Homo sapiens: one gene and its partners. The protein of the gene in region 7 purifies or fractionates together with the protein of the main gene of each other region. This does not show direct contact. Each region holds a gene or a part of one and is shown on either strand. Other genes may lie near its edges. The genes, in order: PPFIBP1, ATL3, NUP35, ATG2B, PLEKHH3, DSTYK and TACR3.

What was found.
Region 1: the proteins of TACR3 (region 7) and PPFIBP1 purify together in Homo sapiens (affinity purification with mass spectrometry; one large-scale study listed by BioGRID and IntAct). This does not show direct contact.
Region 2: the proteins of TACR3 (region 7) and ATL3 purify together in Homo sapiens (affinity purification with mass spectrometry; one large-scale study listed by BioGRID and IntAct). This does not show direct contact.
Region 3: the proteins of TACR3 (region 7) and NUP35 purify together in Homo sapiens (affinity purification with mass spectrometry; one large-scale study listed by BioGRID and IntAct). This does not show direct contact.
Region 4: the proteins of TACR3 (region 7) and ATG2B purify together in Homo sapiens (affinity purification with mass spectrometry; one large-scale study listed by BioGRID and IntAct). This does not show direct contact.
Region 5: the proteins of TACR3 (region 7) and PLEKHH3 purify together in Homo sapiens (affinity purification with mass spectrometry; one large-scale study listed by BioGRID and IntAct). This does not show direct contact.
Region 6: the proteins of TACR3 (region 7) and DSTYK purify together in Homo sapiens (affinity purification with mass spectrometry; one large-scale study listed by BioGRID and IntAct). This does not show direct contact.

Annotation. Positions count from the first base shown.
Region 1 is NC_000012.12:27,530,706-27,534,205, reverse strand, and holds part of PPFIBP1 (liprin-beta-1), read right to left. Parts: intron 1-3,500. UniProt on the Homo sapiens protein: May regulate the disassembly of focal adhesions. Did not bind receptor-like tyrosine phosphatases type 2A.
Region 2 is NC_000011.10:63,657,877-63,661,376, reverse strand, and holds part of ATL3 (atlastin-3), read left to right. Parts: intron 1-2,124; coding exon 2,125-2,339; intron 2,340-2,414; exon of another isoform or gene 2,415-2,472; coding exon 2,473-2,616; intron 2,617-3,500. UniProt on the Homo sapiens protein: Atlastin-3 (ATL3) is a membrane-anchored GTPase that mediates the GTP-dependent fusion of endoplasmic reticulum (ER) membranes, maintaining the continuous ER network. It facilitates the formation of three-way junctions where ER tubules intersect.
Region 3 is NC_000002.12:183,148,443-183,151,942, forward strand, and holds part of NUP35 (nucleoporin NUP35), read left to right. Parts: intron 1-3,065; coding exon 3,066-3,207; intron 3,208-3,500. UniProt on the Homo sapiens protein: Functions as a component of the nuclear pore complex (NPC).
Region 4 is NC_000014.9:96,356,842-96,360,341, reverse strand, and holds part of ATG2B (autophagy-related protein 2 homolog B), read left to right. Parts: intron 1-3,500. UniProt on the Homo sapiens protein: Lipid transfer protein required for both autophagosome formation and regulation of lipid droplet morphology and dispersion.
Region 5 is NC_000017.11:42,670,705-42,673,994, forward strand, and holds part of PLEKHH3 (pleckstrin homology domain-containing family H member 3 isoform 1 precursor), read right to left. Parts: coding exon 3,230-3,290; intron 3,131-3,229; coding exon 2,939-3,130; intron 2,853-2,938; coding exon 2,695-2,852; intron 2,593-2,694; coding exon 2,472-2,592; intron 1,689-2,471; coding exon 1,382-1,688; intron 855-1,381; coding exon 647-854; intron 427-646; coding exon 290-426; intron 2-289; coding exon 1-1.
Region 6 is NC_000001.11:205,142,005-205,145,702, reverse strand, and holds the end of DSTYK (dual serine/threonine and tyrosine protein kinase), read left to right. Parts: 3' UTR 1-3,198; downstream 3,199-3,698. UniProt on the Homo sapiens protein: Acts as a positive regulator of ERK phosphorylation downstream of fibroblast growth factor-receptor activation. Involved in the regulation of both caspase-dependent apoptosis and caspase-independent cell death.
Region 7 is NC_000004.12:103,709,986-103,713,485, reverse strand, and holds part of TACR3 (neuromedin-K receptor), read left to right. Parts: intron 1-3,500. UniProt on the Homo sapiens protein: This is a receptor for the tachykinin neuropeptide neuromedin-K (neurokinin B). It is associated with G proteins that activate a phosphatidylinositol-calcium second messenger system.

The DNA of each region.
Region 1 (3,500 bases), on a different chromosome or scaffold from region 7:
TTTGGGTCTAGCCCCATCTCTCTACCCTGGACCATGCACTCATTCCTTCCTCCCTTTTTCTTCTTTTAATATCCTCCTCTCTACCTGAGCCTTCCTCAAACCCAAGCTATCTACCATGTCTCTCTCGGATCAGTTCCTTGAAAGGATGAACTAACCAGGCCACCTGCAGTTCATCAGCCCCCGTGTAGTCCTCAATTTTTTGCATTCTGGATTCCAGGTTCATGAACTGACCTGACAGCAGGACCAGGGACAGTCTGTTGGATACAGCTTTGTAACGAGTCTGTTGCACTGGATGGCATGATTAGTTCACTTACGTTGTGCTTCTTCCCTTGGCCACCATCATCCTCCACTTCTCTGCAGATCCTGCTCTATCTCCTCTCCTAACTTCTTTTTTGCCTGACCATTTCTAAATATCAGGAGTCCCCTGAAGACTGTATGCTTGCTTCTCTTTTTACTCTACATACTCTTGTTCGGGGAGCTCAACCATTCTCACTCTTTACATAACAGCCCTATAGAGATGATCCATTAGTCCAGGCTTTGGCCTAAACTCCAAGCCTAAATTTCTAAATTCTTGCTTAACATCTTCATATGAATAATGTCAACTAACAGTTCATACTGGCTTTTAACACCCCAAGTACAGAACCATGCCAGAGGTAGGACTATGAAGAGGCTGAAGATACTGGCCCTGGAGCTGCACCTGCCTGAGTTCAAATTCTGAGTCTGACACACATGATCTGTGTGATCCTGGGAAAGTTACTTAGCCTCCTTGTGCCTCAGATTCCTCATCGTAATATGGGATTAATCTAGGTTGAAATATTTAAGGTGCTTAGAGTAGTGCTTGGTACATAAAAAGTATAACCTACCAGGTAAGTGTTACCTATTATTATTGTTATTCTCCTAAAAACCTGATAAGATAGGTATTATTATTTTATCCATTTATACAATGAGAAAATTAAGGATAATGTGGGTCATGATGGAATTTCAAACTCCAGATGTTCAAATCTTAACTCATATTTCCCATTAAAATTCAACTTTCACTTAGCCAGGCATGGAGGCATGTCCCTGTAGTTCCAGCTACTCGGGAGGCTGAGTCAGAAGGATTGCTTGAGCCCATGAGTGCACAATGATCACAACTGTGAATAGCCACTGCTCTCCAGCCTGGGCAACATAGCAAGACATCATCTTTAAAAGAAAATTAACTTTTGTATACGGGCCATTCTTGATTTAGGGTGTTCTGTCCTTCTCCCTCCCCTTGCCCATATACCCACTAGAAATACCCAATCTGCTATTTCCAGAGTCATTTTTATAAAACAATAGTTCCCTTACTTCTTCTTTTCTTAAAAACATCCTGTTTTAAGGTACAATCTTGTCACTCTCTTTAAAACCCTGTAAGATTTGCCCCAATATAGCTTACGTCTTTTCAAACAATATTGTTCTCTCTTTTCTCTAAATCGAATCTCACTCTATTCTACATTTTGCTCCAAACCCAAGTATGCTCATCTGTCCCCACTGCCTCCTCAAAATCTCCTCCCCACCCTTTAAGACCCAGTCAAATCCCACCTCTTCTAATGAAACCTCAAGAAACCCAGTCTCTTCCTTTGCTCTGGTGACTAGTCTAGTTCACAGAATGCTCTTCCCCAACCAACCTCCAAAAGGACCAATAAATAGATGTTTAAAATTTTAACATATTTTGTATTTCTCGAGTAATGTAATATAGATGTAATATACTGTAAAAAAAAAAAAAAATACAAAGTTCCCTTCATCCCAACTCCCATAAGCCATCCCACTTGGCAGTTTTTCATGCACTGACAAATGTAAACCATACACGTGTGCTTGGTTTTTTACTTCTTAAAATATATATAATAGACATCTGTACAAGTCAGTATATTCAATCTTTTTAACAGCTAAACAGTATTCTAAATCTGCATTTTATTACAGTTATGAATAAGGTGTGCCATCTCTTTCTGCCCCCATCTCCTGTATGTGAATACTCTTAAGGTAAAGATCATGTTTTGTTTGTCTTTCCGTCTCCAAGAGGATCTTGTACCAAGGCTGGGAATTGCTTAACACGTGCTTAATGAAATAGTAACAACAATATCTGTCATCAAAGCAGTGCATGTCGTGTGCCAAGAAACCAGCTGTTAGTGCTTCACATACATTATCAGATGTAATCTTCATAACCACCCAATTATTCCCATTTCACAGAAGACTTAACCAAAATCACACAGCTAGTAACAACAGGGGATTCTAATCCACATCTGTCTGACTCTGGAGTCCCCGCCCTTCATCCCTATGCTATAGTTAATAAAATTTTTATAAGGACATCCTTATAAACCAAAGCTGGAAAACAGAAGAGTTCCAAGTAGTCTGGTGTGGGCAGGTGGGAATGAGGATAAGAGACAGGAGGCGGAATAAATGCCAAGTAGATGGAGTCAAGGGATTGTAGCTATAAACCTACCGAGAACCTTCTAGGAGAAAGAGCTGAATTCTTTGCCTCCCCCTTTCAGACTCCCCACTACACTTCCCTTTGGTAACAGTGCCACCATTTGTTGAAGATCTTCCATGTGCTGAATATGCCATTATTATTCCTATTAATAATTTCTGGCCGGACGTGGTGGCTCATGCCTGTAATCCCAGCACTTTGGGAGGCTGAGGCCAGCAGATCATCTGAGATCAGGAGTTTGAGACCAGCCTGGCCACGATGGTGAAACCCTGTCTCTACTAAAAATACAAAAAAAAAAAAAAATTAGCTGCTCATGCTGGTGGGGACCTGCAATCCCAGCTCCCTGGGAGGCTGAGGCTGGAGAATCGCTTGAACCCAGGAGGTGGAGGTTGCAGTGAGCCGAGATTGCAACACTGCACTCCAGCCTGGGTGACAGCACGAGACTGTCTCAAAAAAAAATAATAATAATTTCTAATTATTTCTAATCCTTCAAAAAATGCTATGGCACATATATCAGAGCTACCATTTTATAGATGAGAAAGCTGAGACCCAGAGAGGTTAAGTTACTTGCCAATATTAGACTGTAATAAATAGCAAAGCCAGGATTCAAGTTGAGGATCTGCATGGCTCCAAAGTCCTGTTTTTCTCGTACAAAATAACACGTTTTTATTTTTAAAGAAAAGATGAACTATGATTTTTAGACATCTAGACTCAGTTAAGATCACATTTGGCTGCAAGTAACTGACCCAAGTTCTGTGGTTTAACCAAGTAGAGATTTTATTTTTCTCACAGAGTCAAGAAATGGGTCCAGTAGAGCAGTTGCAGAATGCTATCAGCTTCTCAGCCTCCTTCTAACCTTCCACCCACTCATCCTTAACCCTCAAGCATCTTGTCTTTGGTCACGCGATGGCCTGCTTACTTTCTCCAGGGAAGAAGTACAAAGAGCAAAAGGCTTAACAGGCAAGCTCACAGAGGCTTCCCCTTTTAAGAGCTTTGGGGAACGGGGCATCCAGCTATTTACATCTCATCAGCCAGGACTACTGTCACTGAACCACCT
Region 2 (3,500 bases), on a different chromosome or scaffold from region 7:
ACTATAGAATTAATAGCTTCTAAAACTTTTTGAGTTATTACTAGTGATATGCAAAATACAACCACCTAAAGATCTTTTTGAGCTTATATCTAGGACCTGTTGGGCAATATGCTGAACCTTCATAAGCCTTCATTTCCTTCTTTTTTTTTTTTTTTGAGACCAAGTCTCACTCTGCCACCCAGGCTGGAGTGCAGTGGCGCGATCACGGCTCACTGCAGCTTCTGCCTCCCGGTTCAAGCAATTCTTCTCCCTCAGCCTCTTCAGTAGCTGGGACCACAGGCGTGCGACACCACGCATGGCTAATTTTTTTTTTTTTCTGTATTTTTATAGAGACGGGGCTTTACCATGTTGGCCAGGCTGGTTTTGAACTCCTGACCTCAAGTGATCAGCTTGCCTTGGCCTCCCAAAGTGCTGAGATTGTAAATGTGAGCCACTGAGCCTGGCCATTTCCTTCTTCTTAAAATGGAGCAGTATTATTTACATCAAAGAGTTGTTCTGAGGATTAAATAATATATATATATGTGTATATATATATCTAAATAAAGCTTAGCAGTGGCAAACACTATTATTGATAGACATTGTTTTATTTCCACTTTTGGACTGTTTTGAGTAAAGCTGATAATGAACTTTCTGTTTTTGAGATAGAGTCTTGCAATATTGTCCAGGTTGGTCTTGAACTCCTGGGCCCAAGTAATCCTCCTGCCTCAGCTCTCCAAGTAGCTGGGACTATATGTGCGAGCCACCATGCCCAGCTCAACATTCTTGTATATATGTTTTTTGGTGGACATAGGCATTCATTTCTCTTAGGTGTATACCTAGGAGTAGAATTGCTGGATCACAGATATATTTAATTTTTGTAGATACAGCCAAACAGTTTTTTGAAGTGGCTTTAGTATTTTGTGCTCCTATCAGAATGTGTGAGAATTGCGGTTGCTTCATACCCTGTCCCACAGTTGATATTGTCAGTCTTTAAATTTTAGCCATTCTGATGGGCAGGTAGTGGTATCTTATTGTGGTTTTAATTTAGATTTCCCTGTTAAGTAATGATATGGAAGTACCTTTTAATAGGATTTGTATATCTTTTTCTTACAAAGTGCCTGTTATTTTTTTCTTATGGATTGCTATGTTGATGCTGGATGTGGGTCCTTTGGAAACAGATATTGTGAATACTCTTCCCTAGCCCATGGCTTGCATTTTTACTTATTGAAGTCTTTAAGTGAACAAAGTTTTTAATTTTAATGAAGTCTGTGTTGTCATTTTATTTTCTTTTATGGATAGTACTTTTTTTCTTTGAGACAGGGTCTTTTTTTTTTTAACAACATTTTATTTTATTTATTTTTTATTATTATTATACTTTAAGTTTTAGGGTACATGTGCACAATGTGCAGGTTAGTTACATATGTATACATGTTCCATGCTGGTGTGCTGCACCCATTAACTTGAGACAGGGTCTTATCTGTCACCCAGGTGGGAGTGCAATGGCATGATCTCGGCTCACTGCAACCTCTGCCTCCCAGTTTCAAGTTATTCTCGTGCCTCAGCCTCCCGAGTAGCTAGGACTTACAGGTGCGTGCCACCACACCCAGCTAATTTTTGTATTTGTTGGTAGAGATGGGGTTTCGTCATGTTGGCCAGGCTGGTCTTGAACTCCTGACCTCAAGTGATCCACCCACCTCGGCTTCCCAAAGTGCTGGGATTACAGGGGCGAACCACTGTGCCCTGCCCTTTTATGGTTAGTATTTTTGTGTCCGTTTTTTGTTTTGTTTAGTTTTGTCACCCAGGTTGGAGTACAGTGGTGTGGTCATAGCTCACTGTAACCTCAAACCCCTGGGCTCAAGCAGTCTTCCTGCCTCAGCCTCCCAAGTAGCTAGGACTACAGGTATACACCACTACATATGGCTAATTTTTTAAATTTCATAGCGCTGGGTTTCACCGTTTCCCAGGCTAGTCTGAAACTCCTGGCCTCAAGTAATCTTTCTGCTTTGGTTTCCCAAAGTGCTGTGATTATAGGCATGAGCCATTGAGCCTGGCCCTGTCCCCTGTTTAAGAAGTTTTTGTTTTCCCTATATTCAAAAACATATTTTAAATATTTGACACTGATTTTTTTTCTCTGCATGAACATAGATGATGCCATGGAGAGCAGCAAGCCTGGTCCAGTGCAGGTTGTTTTGGTTCAGAAAGATCAACATTCCTTTGAGCTAGATGAGAAAGCCTTGGCCAGCATCCTCTTGCAGGACCACATCCGAGATCTTGATGTGGTGGTGGTTTCAGTGGCTGGTGCCTTCCGAAAGGGCAAGTCCTTCATTCTGGATTTTATGCTACGATACTTATATTCTCAGGTAAGATAGAATTATTTTATTTCAAGTAAAAAGTGAGACTTTAATGTCCAAAAAAGCGAAATAAGCTCATAGATTATCCTTGATGCATAAAATTTTTAATTTAAGATTTAATAGAAATTTCTTACTTCTGTAGAAGGAAAGTGGCCATTCAAATTGGTTGGGTGACCCAGAAGAACCGTTAACAGGATTTTCCTGGAGAGGGGGATCTGATCCAGAAACCACTGGGATTCAAATCTGGAGTGAAGTTTTCACTGTGGAGAAGCCAGGTGGGAAGAAGGTAAGGATGAAAATGACCTTACAGATTAACAACAACAACAACAAAATATGAACTTCAGCATGTACTGTGTTAACCCAATTAAAAACCTTTTATCAAAGAATTTAAAATGGGTAAAGTAAGAAAAGTTAAAAAGTCCCTGTTTTGTCCTGAAATTTTAGTCTGTTGTGGATAAATAGGATTTTCTGACACAGGTATGCGAAGTTGTAGCTCTGATGTCTAGCTGTAGTCTCCTTGGTCTGCTGATTGCATTATTTTAATTTTCTTTTCTGGAAAAACATTTTTGCTAAAAGCTATACAGACTTTTTTGTTTGTACCTAGCAGTACTTTATGTAGTATTCCTTAGGGCTATGTAGCATTTTTAGACTCAGTTAAAAAATATTAATCTGTTGCTGACTCTGTTAATTCCTATTTCAACATGTGTTTCCTTGAATAATTCAGGATACAACTTACTGTGTATGACAGCTTTCCTTCACACACTATTTTTGTGGGTGTGTGTATATCCAACTTGGGGAGAATTTAAAAAACACATAGCTTTTTAATTTGTTTGAAACAGACCTTCTGCCTGTTACATTTTGTGCTCTTAACCAATTAAAGAAGCCAGTGGCAGCCGGGTGCTGTGGCTCACGTCTGTAATACCAACACTTTGGGAGGCCAGGGTGGGCAGATCACAAGGTCAGGAGTTTGAGACCAGCCTGGCCAACATAGTGAAACCCTGTCTCTACTAAAAATACAAAAAATTAGCTGGGTGTGGTGGTGGGTGCCTGTAATCCCAGCTACTTGGGAGGCTGAGGCAGGAGAAACGCTTGAACCCGGGAGGCAGAGGTTGCAGTGAGCCGAGATCACACCACTGTCCTCCAGCTCGGGCGACAGTACGAGACTCCGTC
Region 3 (3,500 bases), on a different chromosome or scaffold from region 7:
TTCTCTGCATCCTCGCCAGCATCTGTTTGTTTTTTTGTTTAACAATAGCCATTCTGACTAGGGTAAGGTGATGATGTAGTTTTGAATTGCATTTCTCTGATGATTTGTGATGTTGAGCATTTTTTCATATACCTCTTAGCCATTTGTATGTCTTTTGAAAAATGTCTATTCATGTTCTTTGCCCACTTCTTTAACAGGTTATTTTTATCAAATATATCTATAGATATATTTCGAGATGGAGTCTTAAACTCTGTCATTTAGGTTGGAGTGCAGTGGCATGATCTTGGCTCACTGTAACCTCCACCTCCCAGGCTCCAGTGATCCTTCCATCTCAGCCTCTCAAATAGCTGGGACCACAGGCACACACCACTACGCCCAGCTAATTTTTTGTATTTTTAGTAGAGATAAGGTTTTGCCATGTTGCCCAGGCTGGTCCTGAACTCCTAACTTGGCCTCCCAAAGCGCTGGGATTACAGTCACGAGCCACAGTGCAAAGCCAAGCTTTTTATCACAGTAGCTTTTCCCCCCACCTTCTATAGATAATCTTTTTTGTTTCTTAAGAACATACTTGGAGAAATCCATGTGACTATAAACACTTTGGAATGAGTTAGGATGGTTTTCAACTCATTTGGGAATTAAGGATAAATGGCAAGTCAGGAGATACATACAATAGTTAGAATATGTTAAGTAGCCTCTAGAAAATCAATAAAAATGGAGCATGACTCATGCGCATTGACCTGTAGAACAGTGGTTCTCAAATGTCTTAGTTTTGTAGTTTTTACCTTGTTTATACTCTTAAAAATTAAAGAGCTTTTGTTTATATAGATTATAGCTATCAATATTTACTGCATTCAAAATTAAAACAAAATTTAAAATTTAAGTATTAACTCATTTAAAAATAAAGCTATTTCATATAAACATAATCTTTTTTGAAGTGAACAGTAACTATTTTCTAAAGAAAAAAAGATTTGCAGGAAGAGTGACATTGTTTTTGTTTTAAAAATCTTTTTAGTGTCTGGCTTAATAAAATACCTGTGAATTCTCATGAATCTGCTTCTCTTTTCAACCTGAGTCTGTTGAATCACATGAAGTTGCCTCTGGAAAACTCCACTGTACACTAATAAGAGACTGAGAAAAAGGCAAATGAAACTTCATGTTTTTGTGAAAATAATTTTGAGTTGGCTGATCTCATGAGAGAGTCCTGGGGGAGCCAAGAATCTCCAGACCACACTTGTAGTACTGCCACAGGAAATAAACATGTTAACTAGATTACTGCCTCAGAGCTCATGCTTTGGATTCCGATTGCCTGGATTGGAATTCCAACTAACCTTCTGGATGTTATTTAATATTATCCTGTTTCCTAATTTGTTAAATGGACTAATTGGACCTTTTGTAGGATTGTTAGAATTAAATAAAATTACACTCGTAAAGTGTAATAATCACTTAATAAAATGCTACCTTTTTTTTAATTTTTTTATTTTTTTGAGACAGAGTCTCTCTGTCACCCAGGGTGTAATGCAGTGGTGCTATCTCAGCTCACTGCAACCTCCGCCTCCCGGGTTCAAGCGATTCTCCTGCCTCAGCCTTGAGAGGAGCTGGGATTACAGGCATGCACCACCACACCTGGCTAATTTTTGTGTTTTTAGTAGAGATGGGGTTTCACCATGTTGGCCAAGCCAGTCACAAACTCCTGACGTCATGATCCGCTCGCCTTGGCCTCCCAAAGTGTTGGGATGACAGGTGTGAGCCACTGGCCTGGCCCTTAAAATGCTACCTTTTACTATCAAAGTTTTAGTCCTGTTATGTCACGCTTGCTCAGATTTTTCTGTTGGTTTTCTACCTCGCTTAGAGCTTTAGCTTTTACAGTGGCTTTATAAGGTTTTTCTTCATGATCCGGCATATTGCTGCCTCTCTGCTCGCATCTCCTTGTTCTCATCTCACATCCCCCTCACTGTGCAAACAGTGGCCTTCTTGCGTTCATCTAAGACCAATCATGTCTTTCCTCATGGCCTTTGTTTTATTATTTTCTCCACAAAATGTTCACTTCTTCAAATATTGTTTTGCTTCCCTTGTCCTTCAGGTTTTTGCTTTAATGCACCTCAGTGAAATCCTTTTTCATTTAACCCACCCACACAAATTGGCCCTGTCTCCCTTCTCTGCTTTATTTTTTTTTCTCTGTAGGATTTTTAGTTTTGTAGCACATTAAGTATTTACTTATTTGTCTCTCTTTCGCTAGAATGTAGGCTCCAATAGGGATGGATTTTTTGTTTTTATTTGTCTAATGTGTTTACTGCTATACCTTCAATACCTAGGTTGATGCTTGGTGCATATTTAAGTGCTGATAAAATATGTTTTGAATGAGTAAATCATTATTGCTACTGTGAAGATGAAAGGGAAATAGTCTTTGCTTCTCTCAAATGTATAGCCTTAATTGGACATTGCTTCTGATATAAAATGAACTTTATAAAGTGTTTAGCATGGCATGTTGGACACACAGAAGTACTCAATTGGTGGCTGTTACTGAAGAATAAGAAATAAAAGGATAAGACATTTTAGAAAGAAATGACCTGAATAAAAGAAAATTGCATTCACATTTTAAGGGGTAAGGTAGATATTGTTTAGTGCATACTGGAAAAGTAAGGTTGCAACTGTATAGCTGAGGCCAAGGCATTCGGATTTTGTTCTGTGGGTAATACATTTTTACATGTTCTTAAGGCAGAGGTGCTGTGATGAAAGTGGTAGGTTTGGAAGATGAAACCAACAGAAGTCTTTGAGGTTGCCTGGGATATCCTTCTGGTGTCAGCTTAACCAGACATGCTTAATAAAACATTTAGATAATTTATCATACATAATAAAACATTTGCAGAATTATAAACTATGCCCAATTATTACTTCCTCTAATTGTATGGTAGCATGAAATTGCTATTTGACCACAGTTGTATGTTTTGAACTGTTTATGTAATTGCCAACTTTATTAGACTTTATCATTTAAAACTAAGATTTTTGATTTAGAATCAATCGAGGTGTTTACACTGGCAACTAACTTGCTAAATATACTAATATAGGGCAAAGTATGTTTAGTCCAGCAAGTATCGGTCAGCCACGAAAGACGACATTATCTCCTGCCCAGTTGGATCCTTTTTATACTCAAGGAGATTCTTTGACTTCAGAAGATCACCTCGATGACTCTTGGGTGACTGTATTTGGGTAAGGTTTGCAGACCATTTGCCTTTTAAAAACCCCACCCTAACATTTTATAATGAATATAATCAAACATACAGTAAAATGGAAAGAAGTGCATAGCAAACACCCATATTACTACCACCTAGGTTCTATGGTTAACAGTTTGCTACATTTGCTTTGTCATTTATCCATCTATCAATTCATTCTTTTTGTTGGTACATTTCATAATAAGTTGTAGACATCAATACATATTACCCTGACACTTGAGCATGCATGTCATTAACTAGAGTTTGATATTTGTTTGTAGTTTTTTAAAT
Region 4 (3,500 bases), on a different chromosome or scaffold from region 7:
TCTTACTCATTATTAAAGTGCTATCTTTATTTTGAAAAGACAGATTAAGTATGTTTTGTTTTTTGGAAAATATCTGCTAGGTAGCATGTACTACTGATAGTCATTGTCATAAATACATAAATAGTCAGTGGAGAATTCTTCTCTGTGTAAAAGGAAAATGCTTATCTTTAAATCCAACCCTTAAACACTTGGCCATAGGAGAAACCAGGAAACCAGAAGGTAATTGCCATTCACTTTCTCTTTACAAAGATTCTACTGTTTAAAGGTCTGGTTTTATTCTATAGAATGTATGTGGAAATGTTTCAGTGTGCAGAAGTGGAAGGAACATCCAACTGAGGGCACCACTCTTAATCCTTCTCTGTTGTGGAACTACTAGTTTTCTCTTTGTACCAGTTTGATATGTGGCTTGAAGGAAGGTGCCAGTGCCCATTTGTATATTAAATATAAGTACAACTTTTCAATCTAAATTTGGAAAATTTAATATAGAATGTCTCATTTTCCTCTCACATCCTTATGAATCATCTGATAATACTTTAGGATATATGCATCCAGTTTTGGAGATTACTACCTTAAACGTGGCATGAAGTGGAGGGAGAAATAGAGGCAAGGGGTTTGGGATTGTTCCATCATTGGAATAGACTGTCTAAAAATTTCATAAACTCCTTGTCCCTAGAAGTGGTTGAAATGGCAAAATGTTGAAAGGAGGAAATTCTATTTGGGGTGGGAAGTTGGATTTAATGACTCATTCCTTTTTAACTCTATGACTGTGCCTTTATTTTTGATTTTTAAATGGAATTTCTTTCATTAATCGATTCAGTACATTTATTGAGCTCTTAGCATGTGCCACTGTGAGGGGCTGGGGGATATAGCAGTGAACTAAACAAAGACCCTTTTCTTACAGGAGCTCAAGAAGATACACATTAACAATTTATTACACTGAGGCCTTTTATTTTATTTTTTTTTTGAGACAGGGTCTCACTCTGTCACCCAGACTGGAGTGCAGTGGCGTGATCTAGGCTTACTGCAGCCTCAACCTGCTAGGCTCAAGCGATCCTCCTACCTCTCCTCCCCTCCCTGCAGTAGCTGGGACTACAGGTGCATGCCACCACACCTGGCTACTTTTTGTATTTTTTGTAGAGACGGGATTTCGCCATGTTGCCCAGGCTGGTCTTGAACTCCTGGACTCAAGCAGTCTGCCCATGTCGGCCTCCCAAAGTGCTGGGATTACAGACGTGAGCCACCACGCCTGGCCACTGAGGCCTTTTAACTTCAGTTTAAGAATGTTTCGATTGCTGCTTATATTCTCTTGGTGTTTAATAAAATTATCTTCAGTTCAAGAAACATTGATTACTGATTATTTGTCAAAGGTCACCTGGAGACTAGAGTGTTACCTTCACTTTTTCTGTTTATATGCGTGAAACTCATTGATGATAATTGAAAGCAAAATACCCTTAAACAGAAGAATAAAAAGCTCTAAAGGACTCTATGGTGGGGCATTTATTTGCTGAGTAGTTCAGGTGTCTCCACTTTTAGTTTAAGAGTTATTTTCTCGTTAGCATAGTGGTGACTAAAAAAAAAAAAATACTTGATAGGACTGGTGAGGAAACACTTCATAGGACTGGTGTGGAAAATGTTGCTTGAGCCAAGTAGGTTGAGAATTTTTACTACTCATATACTATAGTAGCCTTGGATTTTCCCAGAATGACTGAATTTCAAGGTACCTTATGCTACAAGATATATGGGATTTTGCTCAAGTGGTTATAAGACTGGGCATAAATATAACCTATTTAAACATCTTATACTTAGGGAAATTATTTTGTAGCTTAGTGGTGCAATGTAAATTCTGGAACTGTTGACTCTCCAAAACTGTTAACATTTATCAGTTTTTTTCTTTTTTTCCTTTTCTTTCTTTAGAGACAGTCTCTGTTACCTAGGCTGGAGTACAGTGGTGTGATCAGCTCACTGCAGCCTCAAACTCATGGGTTCAAGCGATCCTCCAATCCAGCCTCCTGAGTAGGTGGGGACTACTGATGTACACCACCACACCCAGTTAATTTCTTTTAATTTTTGTAGAGACCGGATTTCACTATGTTGCCCAGGCTGATCTTGACCTCCTGGGCTCAAGTGATCCTCCCACCTCAGCCCCCCCCAGTTTCTGGAATTACAGGCATGAGCCACCGTACCAGGCCCCTTTAATATTACTCTTCACTGCTGTAATAAACCTTTTTGTATTTAGAGGTTTAACTTTATTTCAACTTCTCTGCCACAAAATTGGGACGAAAACTTGGTGTTTACTGAGAAGAGAGTTCCATCAAGTCCCGTTTCTCTCATAGTTGTCTAAGGTTGACAGTTTGCAGAAGCTAAGTCATTGCCTCCATATGTTTTAAACACTGTTAGGTTTTTAATAGTTCATTTTTACTATACAATTAATATATGCTCATTACAAAAAATTCAAACAGTAAAGAAATATATGAGGTATGAAGTAATAGAGCTTAATCCCATCTCTTCCAGAGATAACAATATGGTACAAAAGTTTCAAACTTTTAGTTGTGGAAATACTTAATACATGAAGCAAGCAGTTCTACTTACCTTTTGAAGTCTTTTATGATGGGCCATTTTTTTAATGGAATGTGTCAAACATTCTTAAAAAAAAAAAACTATGAAAAAATCTGAAAAACACAAGTAGAGGGAAGAACCTTGATGACCGTAACTTGTGGTACCTAGTTGATGGTGAAATAGGAAATTCTAGAGAAGGAGCAGGTTTTCTCCACTGTCTGGAGTTGGGAGTGGGAGGAGGAGATTGAGATTGGACAGAGAATAAGTTTTACTATATTGATTTTTGAGGGGGCTTTAGAATGTGGGGGCTTTAGATCCAGGTAGAGAAGCTCAGGAGGCACTGGGAATATACGTATAGGAAGATTGCAGTTGTAAAGATATGGGAGTTATCAGAGTATCAATAGTGAATAACAGTGGCAGGAGATGGAACTGCACAAAGTGCGTGGGTAGTAAGTAGATCAGCTTGAGAAACAAAAAAGGCCGAAGATGAAACTTAGATGAACTCCAACATTTTAAATTGTAAAGGATCAGAAAAAAGATTGAGAGAGTGAAGTGTTACAGAAGTCAAGGGAAGTTAGAATTTCAAAAAAGGTGAGTGGTCCTAGGAACTAGGTAGAGATGAGAATTCAATAAAGATGAGGACTAAATATTGTTTATTGCATTTGTCATTTTAATGGTGGTTACAAGCAGTTTCAGAGGAGCTGAGGGTTAGAAGGTCGCTTGTAGTTTGCAGTTTGAGCAGATAACTACCTTGACAGAGAAAATGGGGTTGATGGCTAGGGGGAACATGGAGCAAGGTTAGGGGTTTTAGTTTACTTTTGAAAATAATAATGATCATTTATTAAATACCTTCCATCTCTATATACTGTACTGTGTGGGTGCTTTTACATACATTATTTTACTCTAAATTGGGTACTAACTTTCTGTTTACTGTGAGGTTAAAT
Region 5 (3,290 bases), on a different chromosome or scaffold from region 7:
GCTGCAGAAGAGGAGCGGACGAAGCGCTAGGGAGAAGCCGGACCCCTACGGCGAGGGCAGCTTGGGGTGGGGGCGGGGCCATGTGTTTGGGGCGGGGCCTGGGCGGAGCCGACAGCGGAGGTGATGCTGCAGTCGGACTGCAAACCTGCGGCGGGCAGGTCCGTCTGTAAACCAGCGAACACCACAGCGCAGGGCCAGGGGCAAGCGCTGGATAATGTCCGCTTAGAGACTGACCTCAGCTGAGAAGTGGATGGGCTAATAGAGAGCAGGGCTGGGGCTGGACATTTACTTCTCAAACCTGGTGAGCACGTCGGCCACGAGGGTCCCCCCAGCCAGGGCTCGCTCCTGGGCCCCTCGCTGCTCGTACAGCGCGAATGCGTTGCGGCTCCGGGCCAAGCCCAGCCGCCCCACCAGCTCTCGAGCCACCTAGAAGAGGAGGGTGAGGGGAGACCACTCAGAGGTCTTGCCAGGATTCTGGGAGGGGTTGATTCAATTGGAAGGGGTCTCTTAGTCCTGTCACCACCACTCCCTCCCTTACCAAAATAATCTAGACTCGGGGCAAACCTAGGGTCCAGGAAGAGGGAGAGACAGGCGTGAGAAGCTGGCAGGGTGGGTTGGAGGTCATGGGGCCTTTCTCTGGCCTCACCTCCCCCGCCGTGGTGTGGGAGTCGATGGCCACAGCACAGGCACCAGCCCCCGGACAGTGCACGGTACACAGCAGCTCCTGCCGTTGGCTCAACGCGGAAATCTCCGCCAGCGAGGGCACCAGCTCTCTGCCGCGCGTCCGGCCCAGCGCTTTCCGGATGAAGCGCGCATATTCCGCCAGTTCCGAGTCCGGGAGTGCCTGCTCGGTCCTGGGTTAGGAGGAACCCAGGGATCAATACTCCAAGGGCTTTCTTCTCCCCCTCCCTCTTGCCTGCTTCTCTTATAGTTTATTTTATCTAGCCGATTTCCTCCCCGCCCCAACTCAAGTTCTTTGAAGGCTCTTCTAAATCTCTCCCCAGTGCTTTGCATAGAGCTGAATTACTTTTCAAGTCCCCTGGCAGCTTTCTCCCAACTGCCTCCACCACTTCCAAAAGTCTTCGTGATCTTCCTTCGGCCTGAAATCGAAATCCAGCCACTTTACTACATTTTCCTAAGCCCTGGCGCTGGCCTGCATCAGCTGGAGGAAAAGCAGCCTTTTCATAACTCCTCAGCCCAAGGGGGGCGTTTTATTGTAATTCATCCGCTCACAACTGCGATAGGATCTTGTATCTCCCACAAAGGCACTGTATGTATTACTCGGTTCTTTACCTACCAAGTCTTTTGCAAAAGACCTTTCATTCTCTCCCAGCCCGGTAGCTCCTCGCCTAGGCCGTAACCCCCACCTCGCCCCTCTCACCTCTCCAAGTGCCCCAGGAGGTGCCCCCGCACAGCTCCCCCAGGTCGGAAGGTGCAGCTCATGCAGGTGAGGAGTTGCCAGTACCGCAGGGCCGCAGGGTCTTGGGTAGCCGGGAGCCCGGGGGGACCTGCAGGGCCCGAGGTCTGCTTAGCCAGCTGCAGGAAGAGTTCATCCCGGAGCGCGGGCAAGTCCCGGCAGGTTTGGAGCACACCCTGCATCAAGGGCCCGGGGCGCCGCGCCCCCTCCAGCGCCTGCAGCGCCAAGAACAGCCGCACCGCCTCCTCGCGCAGGGGTGCATAGCCCGGACCTGTGGGAGGGTGGGGGCGGAGGGACGGTTTGGAGAGGGGACACAGAGCTGCGCCCTGGGAGGAAGGCATGAACCAGGGGAAGGTCAGAGGGAATATAAGGGGATGGGGTGGCAGGGAGGGGAGGGTACGAACGACAGGAAGAGTGAAGGGAAAGCAGTGGTCCCACGGAGCCAGACTCTCAACCTCTGCCTCCCAGGAATCCCCTTCCCAATCCCACTAAGCCTGCATTTGGACTTAGGGAGACGGACGGCCGGGAAGGGCTGTAGATTCACACCCCAGATTCTGTAACTCCATACTGAGGCTCACCACCATAGGTCAGAAAACAGGCTGGACTAGGAGTCAGAAAACCGGGGTTCCTCTCCCAGCACCCTTTAATCCTCTAACTTTAGGACCTGGGCCAGTCACTACACCGTTTAGGGAGAAGTACAGTTGGATGAGGCCAGCACATTCTACAAAAGTGGTAGCTTTTCTACCACTTGTAAAGGTAATATGGCATAGTCTCAAGAGGATAATGAAAAAATAGGGGAGTGTACAAACTCCTGAAGGAACATCAGTAGTCAGAATGAGACCCATAGAGAAGGTGGCCAAAGGGGGCCCTTTTGTGTGTGCTGGCTTCCTCTCCTCCACCCTGGCCAGCTTCCAGTTTCACCTTCATCCTTCGAAAAGTGAGGAGCTGGCAGGTCCATGAAGGATGCTTAGATCCCTGCCAGTTAAGGGATTCAGATTCTTACCTCTGAACCACCCCATCCCATCCAGGGGACTTGGGCCATGGGACCACTCACCTGGGGCGCTGACTCCATAGGGCAGGGGCAGGAGTGGGGCATACAAGGCTCCACTAGTGTGTCTCAGAATCGGGTTCCTCAGGTAAATGAGGGCAACGGCCTCTGGGTCCCCGCAACTTTCCTAGGGGGCCAGGGAGAGGGTCACCTTGATGGGGAAGGGAGTTCCTCACAACCCCAGAAAGCTTTGGGGTCCACCACTCTCCTGGCTCTCCCTGGTGTGTACCTGTATGTCCCTGAGCAGTAGCTGGGTGGGGGTCTCCAGGGGTGCCTTGGAGGCGATCACTTCCCGCAATGCCACCCCCCAGCGCTCAGCCTCTGCCTGGCGTGGGGAGCAGAGGCGGACACTGTGTTTCCGACCAGACACAGTCACTGACCACAGACCTGGGGAAAAGAGAGGCCAGGGAGGGCCATTAGGGTCTGCCGGGGCCCCTGCCTAGGAAGGTAGGAGAGTCCCCAGGAGGTCTCACCTGTCTCCTTACGCCTGCGCTCTGGGCCGGTCACCGAGCACAGGCTGGTGAGCACGAGGCTCCCGAGACGCCGCGCCCCTTTCCCGCTGCTGCTGAACTGATCCAGGGAGTCCCGCGTGAGCACAAACCAGGCTCGGCGCGGGGGCAGCCAGGGCCGCGCCCCTCCTCCGCGGGGCTCCCGGTACAGCCAACCTGGGGGCCGGAGAGGGAGGGAAGGGACATCAGTAGAGACATTAATCCCTAGGGGGTTGGGATTGGGGGCCTCCAGAGTGCACTGAGGGGGGTCTCTACCTTTCACAACGATGTCCGGGTCGTCCTCCGGCAGCCCTTTCTCCGGGATGAGGCTCCAAGT
Region 6 (3,698 bases), on a different chromosome or scaffold from region 7:
TTGCAAATTAGCCGGGCATGCTGGCACGCACCAGTAATCCCAGCTACTTGGGAGGCTGAGGCAGGAGAATCACTTGAACCCGGGAGGCAGAGGTCATGGTGAGCCGAGATCACGCCACTGCACTCCAGCCTGGGCAACAGAGCGAGACTCTATCTCAAAAAAAAACAAAAAAAAAAACAAAAAACAAAGATGAGTCGCACATCTGCTGCTGGGATTTTCTAGGGTTGTCTATGACAGAATGACCATCTTTTAAATATTAATGGAGTATAAATGGAGTCTATAATGGGTCTTTCATATAACTTTTAACTCTTTGGCTATCCTGGGCTCTGATCATGATATGTTTGAGCATAGTAGCTCCCTAAACTCTTGGAGCCTTTCAGAAATTCCATGTAGTGCTAATAACCTTTTTACTTGCAAATGATAAAGTAACTGACTCAGTGTCTTTGGGCTCTGCAGGCTTTAGCCTTGTTTTGGTAGGATGTTCAGTATATTCTCAGAATTTTTACCACCTATTTAGCTATACTTCAAGTACTCTATTCTCTGCACTAACTTACTGTCCTTCTGGGAACTATGATGGGGCTTCAAGGGAGTCAGGTGTCAAGAAAGGAGGGGTAAGTACTCTCTACTTGCTGGAAAATCATTGTAAGTCTGTTGTGTATGAAATTTTAGGAAAAGTCTTATATAGTTCCCTTTCCAGACTGTTTTCTTTTGACTCTAACTATAATCATAAGTCTGTGCTTCCATTATGAAGGTCACATTCCTAGCATTCTTGGGAAGTATTAGCTCATACTCTCATTCACATATGGGAGGTTAGATTTTTTTCCTCTACCCAGAGTCCCTTTTTAGTTTACCCCACGGCTTAGTTTGCTGTCAGATACCAGTTCTCTAGCAGATTCCCCAACAGTTTTTTCCCCAGTGGGGAGGGTGGAAGGGAGGGACTGATATAAGTAAGGAGATGAGTAGTTGTGTTACAGTTCATTTTCTTTAAAAAAAAGTATTTTGAGAAAAGGTGCAAAATATTCTTGAAAGTCTCTAGGCCAGCCAAAGTCCACATATGGATATTTGGGGATGTTATTTAAATACTCAGCAGGCTGAGTGCAGGTATACGTGTGTATAGAGTGTGTATACTTTGCTTTTGTTTTATAACATTGTCAGCTAATTTTGGCTTTGTTCTTTGGCATCCATTCTTATTATAAGTGATGGAATGCCATGAAATGTACTGTATTGTATATTACTTGGGAGGACACTAGGTTTTCAAAGAAGTCTGGCAGCACTTGGGTTATAGAGGGCTCAGCATGACCAAAGTCCTAAAGATTTTACCTCCCAGCTTTGGTTGTATGTGTTCCCAAGTGGTGAGGTGAGATTGTGGCTGGAGGAAGAAAAAGGATGGCATGAAAGAATGACCCTTATTGTGGTCTGTCCTTCTAATCAACATAATTAGGGCAGCTTACCCCAACATGAAAATGATGACCTGGCCATTTTTAATGGCCAGAGCTTGAAGTCTGGTCTCTCATTTTGTTTCAGAAATGAGTGAGAGGCCTTCCTGCAGAGCAGTCAGGAGAAATGGTGGAGCCTGGGGCCCTGGAATGGCTGACCCTGTGCCTAGAGAGCTGATGGCAAGGGCTGTCTGGCATGGCTCATTTGGGTGGGGTTTCCCCAGGCATACCTTAGTTCCCTGATCCTCTGCAAAGAGTAGCTCATTGACTGAGCAAGCGCTTCAGGAGGACTGTGCTGGTTGTTCCCAGACCAAAGAGAGTCACTTTTGACTCCATCAACTTCAAGGGGACAGAGCCTAGGCAGCAGATTCTCCTAATTTTTAACACTAAAATTCAAGGAAGCAGTGGAGGAAAGAATGCATTACTACCACAGATAGAAATAGGGGACTCATAGAACTCTCGACTAGTACCTGTCAGCTCTCAAATGCATTCTTGTGTCTTTGCTTGAGCTGCCAAAGAAGGGTCACAAAGTGTTCTTCCTCATGGAAGAAGTGCCTCGGGGTTGCAGGGCTGCAAAGTGACAACTGCACTGAATGACACTTTATTTTTTGGCTTTGGCTTATTATTTAGCACTGGGAGGCCCAGGGGAATTGGTGATTACAGTAGCACTTTGGGAAGTTAAAGCCCCCTTTGGGCTTGCTTTGGAGAGATGATGGCATGCTTGGTATTCCATTTGGATAATCAGGAAGCCTCCCTAGTCCATCCATATTGTGTCAGAGTGGGATTAACAACCCTGGAAGAGTCCACTGCCAAAAGAGTAGTTGCTTTCCTGGAATTTCCAAAGCTTTTGGATTTTCTGGATCAAGTAACCCACTTTTTAAAACCTGAGGTCAGGAGTTCGAGACCAGCCTGGTAACATGGTGAAACCCCGTCTCTATTAAAAATAGAAAAAATTAGCCAGGCATGGTGGCGGGCACCTATAGTCCCAGCTACTCAGGAGGCTGAGGTAGGAGAATTGCTTGAACCCAGGAGACAGAGGCTGCATTGAGCCAAGATCACACCACTGCACTCCAGCCTGGGCAGCAGAGCAAGACTCCATCTCAAAAAAAAAAAAAAGAAAAAGAAAAAGAAGGTTAATCCTTCAGTTATGGAGGTGGGATGAATAGAGCTTGTTTGATGTTAAAGTGGGTAAGGAGGGAGTGGCCTTGAGACACTTGTATTCCAAACTCTCCTGGAGGTTTCCAGTAGCACTACTGTTCCTAAAAGGGTTTCATTTTTAACTTCATCTGTTTTGTTAACATCCAGTCCAATTGAGGTGATCTCAGAGGTGCATCAGGACATCTAGCACTGGGGAGGCCACCTTGCCCAGATAGTTGAAAAGAAAATTGGTCTGGGCAGCCTGTTGTCTTTTGTCTTCATGTAATGTTTTTTCTTTGTTTTAAAGGACTAATGTTTATTACAGTGTTAAATAAAAGTGTAAGATACTAAGTGTGTAGAATAAAAGTGCAATAACAAAAGACAATGACTTTGGCACACACTTCAGTCTTTATCCTCTCTCCTTTCTTGTGCTACCTGGCTCTTTCCATAATATTGTTACAGCAGGACCGTCTTAATTGTGTGCATTTTGAAGAGATGCGACTCTGGGTTAATCTTCATTAGTGTAATATTGAAGGGTTGGGTTTGGTTTTATAGAGTATTCTGTATACTTGTTGGGATACACAAATACCAGATGTGCTGTATAATAAAGATCACATTAACGTTTTAGGTTTCTATCTGTTTGGTTTTGGTTTTCCCTTACCTCACTACCCATAGTAACAGGACGTTCCCTAATCCATTCCATTTCCACTGGTGACCTTCAGTCAGATGTCTTTCAGTTTGCCTTAGGAGAGATGGATGGAACATGTTCCTCTCCCATCAGGGGCCCTCCCCAGCCACCATGGCTCTTGGCCTCTGGGTACTTTACATCATCACTACTGAAGGGTGGGGCAAGGGAATGGGAGATAGGATAGTGGAGAAAAGGGGTGAGATGATAGTCATGTATCTTCCAGAGCCTATCCTGGGTGACATGCTTTTTTCCAGCTTCTTTTAAGCACGAACCTGCAGCATTGTGAGTTCATATATGAGCCTAGCTACTCTATTATAATACATGGTGAGGGAACTGGGCACATAATCTTACGCTGGCCTATCTGCATGTAGTGTATTTTGCATTTTCTATTTAGGCTCACCCCAGTGCTGAGATTTGCTTGCTCAGCAGTGCCTGAC
Region 7 (3,500 bases):
CTCCCCCCACCCCATGACAGGCCCCAGTGTGTGATGTTCCCCTTCCTGTGTCCATGTGTTCTCATTGTTCAATTCCCACCTATGAGTGAGAACATGCGCTGTTTGGTTTTTTGTCATTGCAATAGTTCGCTGAGAATGATGGTTTCCAGCTTCATCCATGTCCCTACAAAGGACAACTCATCATATTTTATGGCTGCATAGTATTCCATAGTGTATATGTGCCACATTTTCTTAATCCAGTCTATCATTGATGGACATTTGGGTTGGTTCCAAGTCTTTGCTATTGTGAGTAGTGCCGCGGTAAACATACATGTGCATGTGTGTTTATAGCAGCATGATTTATAATCCTTTGGGTATATACCCAGTAATGGGATGGCTGGGTCAAATGGTATTTCTAGTTATAGATCCTTGAGGAATCGCCACACTGTCTTCCACAATGGTTGAACTAGTTTACAGTTCCACCAACAATGTAAAAGTGTTCCTATTTCTCTACATTCTCTCCAGCACTGGTTGTTTCCTGACTTTTTAATGATCACCATTCTAACTGGTGTGAGATGGTATGTCATTGTGGTTTTGATTTGCATTTCTCTGATGGCCAGTGATGATGAGCATTTTTTCATGTGTCTTTTGGCTGCATAAATGTCTTCTTTTGAGAAGTGTCTGTTCATATACTTTGCCAACTTTTTGATGGGGCTGTTTGTTTTTTTCTTGTAAATTTGTTTGAGTTCTTTGTAGATTCTGGATATTAGCCCTTTGTCAGATGAGTAGATTGCAAAAATTTTCTCCCATTCTGTGGGTTGCCTGTTCACTCTGATGGTAGTTTCTTTTGCTGTGCAGAAGCTCTTTAGTTTAATTGGATCCCATTTGTCAATTTTGCCTTTTGTTGCCATTGCCTTTGGTGTTTTAGTCATAAAGTCCTTGCCCATGCCTATGACCTGAATGGTATTGCCTAGGTTTTCTTCTAGGGCTTTTGTGGTTTTAGGTCTAACATTTAAGTCTTTAATCCATCTTGAATTAATTTTTGTATAAGGTGTAAGGAAGGGATCCAGTTTCAGCTTTCTACATATGGCTAGCCAATTTTCCCAGAACCATTTATTAAATAGGGAATCCTTTCCCCATTTCTTGTTTTTGTCAGGTTTGTCAAAGATCAGATGGTTGTAGATGTGTGATATTATTTCTGAGGGCTCTGTTCTGTTCCATTGGTATGTATCTCTGTTTTGGTTACTGTAGCCTTGTAGTATAGTTTGAAGTCAGGTAGCGTGATGCCTCCAGCTTTGTTCTTTTGGCTAAGGATTGACTTGGCAACGCGGGCTCTTTTTTGGTTCCATATGAACTTGACAGTAGTTTTTTTCCAATTCTGTGAAGAAAGTCATTGGTAGCTTGATGGGGATGGCATTGAATCTATAAATTACCTTGGGCAGTATGGCCATTTTCACAATATTGATTCTTCCTACCCATGAGCATGGAATGTTCTTCCATTTCTTTGTGTCCTCTTTTATGTCATTGAGCAGTGGTTTGTAGTTCTTCTTGAAGAGGTCCTTCACATCCCTTGTAAGTTGGATTCCTAGGTATTTTATTCTCTTTGAAGCAATTGTGAATGGGAGTTCACTCATGATTTGGCTCTCTGTTTGTCTGTTATTGGTGTATAAGTATGCTTGTGATTTTTGCACATCGATTTTGTATCCTGAAACTTTGCTGAAGTTGCTTATCAGCTTGAGGAGATTTTGGGCTGAGACGATGGGGTTTTCTAGATATACAATCATGTCATCTGCAAACAGGGACAATTTGACTTCCTCTTTTCCTAATTGAATACCCTTTATTTCTTTCTCCTGCCTGATTGCCCTGGCCAGAACTTCCAACATTATGTTGAATAGGAGTGTTGAGAGAGGGCATCCCTGTCTTGTGCCAGTTTTCAAAGGGAATGCTTCCAGTTTTTGCCCATTCATTATGATATGTGCTGTGGGTTTGTCATAAATACCTCTTATTATTTTGAGATACATCCCATTAATACCTAATTTATTGAGAGTTCTTAGCATGAAGTGTTGTTGAATTTCGTCAAAGACCTTTTCTTCATCTATTGAGATAACCCATGTGCTTTTTGTCATTGGTTCTGTTTATATGCTGGATTATGTTTATTGATTTGCGTATGTTGAACCAGCCTTGCATCCCAGGGATGAAGCCCACTTGATCATGGTGGATAAGCTTTTTGATGTGCTGCTGGGTTCTGTTTGCCAGTATTTTATTGAGGATTTTTGCATCAATGTTCATCAGGGATATTGGTCTAAAATTCTCTTTTTTTGTTGTGTCTCTGCCAGGGTTTGGTGTCAGGATGATGCTGGCCTCATAAAATGAGTTAGAGAGCATTCCCTCTTTTTCTACTGGTTGGAATAGTTTCATAAGGAATGGTACCAGCTCCTCCTTGTACCTCTGGTAGAATTTGGCTGTGAATCCATCTGGCCCTGGACTTTTTTTGTTTGGTAGGCAATTAATTATTGCCTCAATTTCAGAGCCTGTTATTGGTATATTCAGGGATTCAGCTTCTTCCTGGTTTAGTCTTGGGAGGGTGTATGTGTCCAGGAATTTATCCATTTCTTCTAGATTTTCTAGTTTATTTGCGTAGAAGTGTTTATAGTGTTCTCTGATGGTAGTTCGTATTTCCGTGGGATCAGTGGTGATATCCCCTTTATCATTTTTTATTGCGTCTATTTGATTCCACTCTCTTTTCTTCTTTATTAGTCTTGCTAGCAGTCTATCAATTTTGTTGATCTTTTCAAAAAACCAGCTCCTGGATTCATTGATTTTTTGAAGGGTTTTTTGTGTCTCTATCTCCTTCAGTTCTGCTCTGATCTTAGTTTTTTCTTGCCTTCTGCTAGCTTTTAAATGTGTTTGCTCTTCCTTCTCTAGTTCTTTTAATTGTGATGTTAGGGTGTCAATTTTGAATCTTTCCTGCTTTCTCTTGTGGGCATTTAGTGGTATAAATTTCCCTCTACACACAGCTTTATATGTGTCTCAGAGATTCTGGTATGTTGTGTCTTTGTTCTCATCTTTATTTCTGACTTCATTTAGTTATTTACCCAGTAGTCATTCAGGAGCACGTTGTTCAGTTTCCATGCACTTGAGCAGTTTTGAGTGAGTTTCTTAATCCTGAGTTCTATTTTGATTACACTGTGGTCTGAGAGACAGTTTGCTATAATTTCTGTTCTTTTATATTTGCTGAGGAGTGCTTTACTTCCAACGGTGTGGTCAATTTTGGAATAAGTGCAACGTGGTGCTGAGAAGAATGTATATTCTGTTGATTTGCGGTGGAGAGTTCTGTAGATGTCTATTAGGTCCACTTGGTGCAGAGCTGAGTTCAATTCCTGGATACCCTTGTTAACTTTCTGTCTTGTTGATCTGTCTAATGTTGACAGGGGAGTGTTAAAGTCTTGCATTATTATTGTGTGGGAGTCAAAGTCTCTGTAGGTCTCTAAGGACTTGCTTTATGAATCTGGGTGCTCCTG